2 linked regions of the Homo sapiens genome follow. The protein of the gene in region 2 purifies or fractionates together with the protein of the main gene of each other region. This does not show direct contact. Each region holds a gene or a part of one and is shown on either strand. Other genes may lie near its edges.

The links.
Region 1: the proteins of DACH2 (region 2) and TRIM26 purify together in Homo sapiens (affinity purification with mass spectrometry; 2 studies listed by BioGRID and IntAct, with this or other methods). This does not show direct contact.

Annotation. Positions count from the first base shown.
Region 1 is NC_000006.12:30,199,512-30,203,440, forward strand, and holds part of TRIM26 (tripartite motif-containing protein 26), read right to left. Parts: intron 1,628-3,929; 5' UTR 1,524-1,627; intron 1-1,523.
Region 2 is NC_000023.11:86,830,374-86,833,354, forward strand, and holds the end of DACH2 (dachshund homolog 2), read left to right. Parts: intron 1-1,732; coding exon 1,733-1,782; 3' UTR 1,783-2,229; downstream 2,230-2,981. UniProt on the Homo sapiens protein: Transcription factor that is involved in regulation of organogenesis. Seems to be a regulator for SIX1 and SIX6.

The sequences.
Region 1 (3,929 bases), on a different chromosome or scaffold from region 2:
ATACACATATAAATCTACAATGTCTACTGTGGACACAGTGCTCCTTCACTCAACTGTGCAAAGCACAAGACACACGAGCAGTCATGGGGGTCCTGACAGAGTCAAGAGACCGCCCGTTTTTTTTTTTTGGTTTTTTTTTTTTTGAGATGGAGTCTTACTCTGTCGCCCAGGCTGGAGTGCAGTGGCGTGATCTCAGCTCACTGCAACCTCCGCCTCCCAGGTTCACACCATTCTCCTGCCTCAGCCTCCCGAGTAGCTGGGACTACAGGCACCCACCACCACACCTGGCTAATTTTTTGTATTTTTAGTAGAGACGGGGTTTCACCGTGTTAGCCAGGATGGTCTTGATCTCCCGACCTCGTGATCCACCTGCCTCGGCCTCCCAAAGTGCTGGGATTACAGGCGTGAGCCACTGCACCTGGCCAAGAGACCCCTTTTGTTTGCTCCTCAAGGTTTCAGGTTTCAAGAACTAAGAGAGGGCAATGTGACATGGCTCACCCTGTAAATCCAACACTTTGGGTGGCTGAGGCAGGAGGATCACTTGAACCGAGGAGTTTGAAACCAGCCTCAGCAACATAGTGAGACCCTGTCTCAACTAAAAAAATTTAAAAATTTTTTAAAATACCCCAGTGTAGTAGCATGCATCTGTAGTCTCAGCTACTGAGGAGGCTGTGGCAGAAGGATTACTTGAATCTGGGAGGTGGAGGCTACAGTGAGCCATGATTGTACTACTACACTCCAGACTGGGCAACAGAATAAGAGACTGTCTCAAAACAAACAAAAAACCAGAAAACATTAAAAAACAAACAAACAAACAGCACTGAGGTTCTTTACCAAAACTCGAGAAGCATCAGGAAGCTTCAGGAGTCTGACTGTCAGCATTTCCCTTTGTGAGTATTTCCCTGGGCTGTTCTATAGTTTGGGTTTAATTTGCTTCCCCTAGAAGGCTGGACTCTAAACACAGCCCTCCAGAGGAGCACAGCTTAGCCTCAGTGGACTTGTTCTTGGCTGTAACTGCCTCGTCTAGATGGCAGGAATCCTCAGGTGGCTGTGGCTGCTATGTGCTGTGAGGCCTTGGCTTGTACAGGGAGCGGGGACACACAGAAAGGACTCTGCTTCTGTTTACCTTTGTAGTCCTGACCCAGTTCCAGGCTGAGGTTATGAGCCTCAGCACATCTAACCCAAGAGCAGCCTCCTGCCCCTGACTCTGTGTGACAATACAGAAGTCACTTAAGTACTGAGCCTCAGTGTATCCATCTGTAAAATGGGAAGAGTGATACTTACCTTTAAGGGTTTCTAAGCAGGTCATGTGAAAGAATTATGGGAAAAGTGCTAAGCACAAGCCTGGTACACAGACGGAAATCTAGGAGAGAACCCACAACCCCTGGTTTCCAAATCCAGTGAGTGTCCAAACCACAAACAAAGAGTTAAATTCAAAAGTGGCAGCAAAAGAGGAAGTGAGCAGAACCAGCCACAGTGACACACGTGCTACAGAGTTCAACAACATCGTCACAGGGCAGTACCTGGAGGACTTGCTCTCCTATAGATCCATGGAAGGCAACTACAGCAGCGCTGGGAAGACAACCAGCAGGGCACAGAGGTGACTGCGAGGCTGGAATGAAGCAACCTGAATTACAGGCAAATCAATACTATTAATGATTATGTATGGTGAAAGTCCATCACAACAGAGTTCAGTGGCCTCTGTCAGTAGTGACATTAATGGGACAGAAATAAAACCCCCAGTCTATAAGACCCAAGAGTAAACAAAACAGGGATATAACGTCCACTCATTGAGGGTCTAGTACAATAATACATAAAAAGTGTTTTATAACGTAAAAGGACTACATAAATATAAGAGATTCTTATAGTGCTGATAATAAATTCCAACTGGAAGCACTAATGGATCTAGGTATGTGTGACTTTAAGAGACATAATGAGGGGAAAATCAAGCACCTTCAAAGCTCAAATGAAGGATTCAAGGAATTTAACTGTCAAGTGAAAGTAATATCAAGTTCCTACATGTTAGTAATGCTGGTAGAAATGCTAGGAATTGGCCGGGCACGGTGGCTCACACCTGTAATCCCAACACTTTGGGAGGCCGAGGCAGGTGAATCACAATGTCAGGAGATTGAGACCATCCTGGCTAACACGGTGAAACCCCATCTCTACTAAAAATACAAAAATTATCCAGGTGTGGTAGCATGCACCTGTAGTCCCAGCTACTCAGGAGGCTGAGGCAGGAGAATCAATCACCTCAACCCGGGAGGCAGAGGTTGCAGTGAGCCGAGATCGTGCCATTGCACTCCAGCCTGGGTGACAGAGTGAGACTCCATCTCAAAAAAAAAAAAAGAAAGAAATGCTAGGAATTGCCTGGTCCAACTCCTTGGCTTTACTGTTGAGGAAATAAGCCTGGCTCAGCAGTTTTTCAGTTGTAACATACTGCAAGTGTTTGGAAAGAGGAAAAAGGAGTGGTACTGGGCGTGTCTGTGGGCTTTCAAGCCCTTTATCATGCCTCTTTGCCAAATGGCCTAGAAGTTTAAAAGCTGAGGTTTTTCTTTGTTGAAGGATAGCCTGTGTTATCTTTGGGTTGGGAACTTATTTTGCAATTTACTTGCAAAATAAGAACAATAAAAGGACTATGAAGAGCTCAGCTACAGCTCTTCTTCCATGCAAAACAGGACACCTCATCACCCAGGCTCCATGCTGGGGTTTGATGGTCTCTAAACCTCCTGAAACTGTCTAAAAATTATTGCATATGTACTAGATACCTAAAATTGTCTGGGGATTACAGAAGAATAACCTTCTGTAAGATTAATCAGCAAATAAGTAGAAGAGGGATAACAGAATTAGAAAATCATTTTGCGACTGCCATTATAATAGCACAAGGATCATCAATAGATGCTAAAACTATTAGGTGAAAAGTTTTGGGGGATGAGATAGTACCCATGGTGCCAAAGCACCAATGAATGGATTACTTCCTGACATACCTTCATAAGGAAGAGATCCAGTGGTTATCTTAACTAAGTGACCAAATCCAGCGTCATCAGCAGACGGGGCAAAGTGGCATGTGCTTTCTGGCATGGCACTATATGAATCACACAACATTACCTATGAAGTGTTTGTGCCAAAAATGTTTGACTTGAATGAATCTAGTCAAGACTTTAGATCTAACTTCCAGTTTATAAAAAATATAAAGGAAAGGAATACTCTGAAGTATGTTATAACTGAAAAAGTACCGATGGAGGAATTAAACCACACCATAAGGAAAGAACCAGATAAATCCAGAATGCTGGACATTGCACATGGCAACTGGCCTAGTCTTTTAAAAAGTCAATGTCATAAAAAAAAACCTTCGAAAGAACTGCTTTTGATTTTTACAGACTAAAGAGAAATAATAACCAAATGCAATACGTGAACCTTGATTGGATCCTGTAAAAAGAAAAAAAAGGTTATAAAAATAGTCTTGGAACTATTGTGGGAAATTTGTAAGTAGGCTGGGTGTTAGATCATATTAAAAAATTATTTCCTCTCTTTCTTTTTTTTTTTTTTTTTTTTGAGACAGGGTCTTACTCTGTCCCCCAGAGTGCAGTGGAACTATCTGGGCTCACTGCAACCTCGGCCTCCCTGGCTCAAGCAATCTTCTCATCTCAGGCTCCCGAGTTGCTGCAACAACAGGTGCATACTACCACACTTGGCTAATTTTTAAAGGTTTTTGTAGAGAAGAGTTGCCACTATATTGCCCAGGCTGGTCTCAAACTCCTAGGCTCAAGCCATCCTCCCACCTCAGCCTCCCAAAGTGCTGGGATTATAGGCATGAGCAACTGCACCATGTCTAAAATTATTTTCTTAATGGTATTTACTGAGGTTATGTATGAGAATGCCTATACTTCTTATTTATTTATTAATATATTTATTTATTTTTGAGATGG
Region 2 (2,981 bases):
AGTTTTACTACGGTGAAATCTCAATTTATTGTATTCTGGTAGAAAAGTTGATTCACTTAATATTGTTTTCTTCTTGCTAGCCTAGTTTTTCTTTCAATTTTTGAGCAGCTATGGGAACTATTCCTAATAGGCCTTGTAAGCAGACACATAAAGGATGTGGGCAAATATTTCTGTCTCTAAATAAAGGCAAGAAATAAACATAACAAAAGTAGAAATTTTTCAGAAACTGCATTTTTCTAAAGGACAAATGGTGATTGTCTTTCGCTATTCATTGCTGAGTTCATGTACCCTTTTTAAGGGGACATAGTGTGTGCTATTGCTTTCCAGTTTGTAATGTTCACAGTTTGTGTTGCATGATTTAAGCTTTAGCTATATTGTATAAATTTCAATCCTGGTAAAATGACTGTCATTTCATGTCAAAGAGCTTTCCTTTGACATTTAGGCTGTGTATACAAAGGATGAGGTAGACTGGAGGACTGAGCAAATATTTGGTCAATTCATCAGAGTAAATATTCTCAGACTCCACAAAGGAGTTGGAACAATTACCAGTGTCCAAAAATTCAAGCTTTGTTTTCTTCTGGTCCCTGGAAAAGTTTAAGTGAATTCCATGGGCTTCTTGGGAAAATGTCTGGTTGCCCTCTGATGAAGTCCAACCCTCCATAAGTCTGACTAACCCAAACCCCAAATCTTTTATTCATCTATTACCTTACTACATCTTTATTTTTGGTTCTGAGGTATTATCTAGAAAATTCTGCCACTCACCATGATACCTTATACACAGAAAGAATAAAGATTTTAAAGATATTATACACAAGGTTAAAAAAGGGTATACTTTCCTCCTAATAAGCTTGACCAGATTGACTTAATATTTTAGATTAGACATATTAGTCCAACAATGATAATGTCCTCTCCATTATATGTGAAAATAAAGCACTTGACTCAGAAACATTATCTTTAAGTATTTCTCAAGCACAGGTAATGGATTTGTACGGATTCATCCACATTTCTTTTCCTACTTCTTTTGTAACCAAAAGCCAATCTTTGTGATGTATCTAAATAGAGACTCAGGTTATAAGCCATTGCTATGGAAAATAACAAGGTTTGACAAAAAGAGGTAGAATAAATTTTTTTTTAAAAATTTCCAACAATAACTTTTACCCACCCAAATTAAATATTATCTAACTCTAGGATGGCATGGGCTCTTTTAATGACTATCATTTAGAGGGATACCGGTTTGACTAAACACTGTAGCTGAAACGATATTCCAAACTAGTCTCCCTTCATGCAGTATACACAGTCTCAGGGTTAACCCGGGAGAGGAAATTTTAAATGTACAAAGCTGTCATTATCTTAGATCATAACCAGATACTCTTTTCCCCCTGTTTTGGTAAACCACAGGGATGGTATTTCAGATGCACCATTATATACAAAAAAAAAAGTAATATAGATTATTACAGACATTATAATATAGTTCATGAAGAGCCTTTATCAGTCTTCAATGTCTCCGGTGCTGTGGAAAGAAGAACAGAAGCTATAGCATGAAATTTGAAGGATCTTTGAAAACTGACAGATGAAAATATAGAAATGTTAAGAAATGTTAAATTTTACCAACACTAAATTGAGCCTGTTACATCAGATCATTTTAGGTTCCTGAAGATAGAAGTTTTAGTATTTTTAAGCACGTATCAGAATGACTCTTCATAAGAACTAACTTGTTTTCTTTTTTTTTAAGGAGGTAACTATTACTGTTTAGAAATGGCACAACAGTTGTATTCAGCCTGAAAGGTCCTCGCTGGCTTTACATAAATGAAGATGCTTGTGATTCCAGTTTATCTCTGAAACTATTCAACATGGAGTTATTTCAGTTTTGTTTATCAGCAAAGCTTTGTTTACTGAAGGAGCTATTTAATCTATGTTACATTAAAAAAGAAACGCGTGTACATTTTAAAAGCAATGATGTAAACTTTGTTCTTGCATTAGACTGACCAGTTTAAAAATATGAACTAAAACCTAATGGCTAAAGTAACTTGACCATATTTGATGCTTTTCTATGCTCATTTCAACTTGGCTTTTTGTCTTTTAAATTTTTAAAAAATGCAGTAGTGTGTTAGAGACTAGAAAGTTATATGTATGGTTTCCCTGTTCTACTATACATAACGTTAAAGTACACCTTCTTTGTTAAAAATGTACTTGCTAAACTTCAGCGTAAATAAAAACATTTTGACTTTGTCAATTGTCACTGAGTATTTCTTTTCAAACTGCCAACTGCAGTCATTGAAACATATAGTAGAGTCAGTGCAAATCAAAATACGGGAACTAGCCAGATGTTTGCAAATCTTCCTCTAGTTTTGTTATTTTCAAGCAGATAGGAACACAGTTCTTATTTCAGTTCATCTGTTTAAACAGGCTGATATTCCTGTCCTCAATTGTTGTATTGATTCACACTGGATTGCCTTTTCCTAGTTATGTGTGCTTAGTGAACCTGCTTCCAGGAGGAAGGGTTACACTGGGAAGCAGGAAAAATGGGTGCACCAAGAACTAGAAAATATTTTCTGAGTATTTGTTATCATCAAAAGTTTATTCTAGAGTCACCTACACTAAAAAGCAAACAAAAATGGAAGGGGTATATCTTCTCTGGCCCCCCAAAATATCAAGTCTCTTTGTACGTCCAAGTGCCTATCACAGTGTAGTGAAAAACCAAGGCCAGTTATAGCCCTGCCCTACAGTTTATTTAATCTGTGCTCTTACTTTCTCTTGGTTCACTTCTGGTAAAATACTGGAGCTCACTCAAATTCTGGTTGACTATAAAACCTCTCAGGTTTTCCTATGAAGCGGCAGTGACACTCCCACTCCTTGCCTATCTTTTGAAATGTATTGTATCTCACAGTGTTCTAGCTGGTCACCCAATGACTGTAGGTCTTCTACTTTGGAACCATGTTGGTAAATCCACAGATGTTTCTTCTCACTATCATGTCCACACC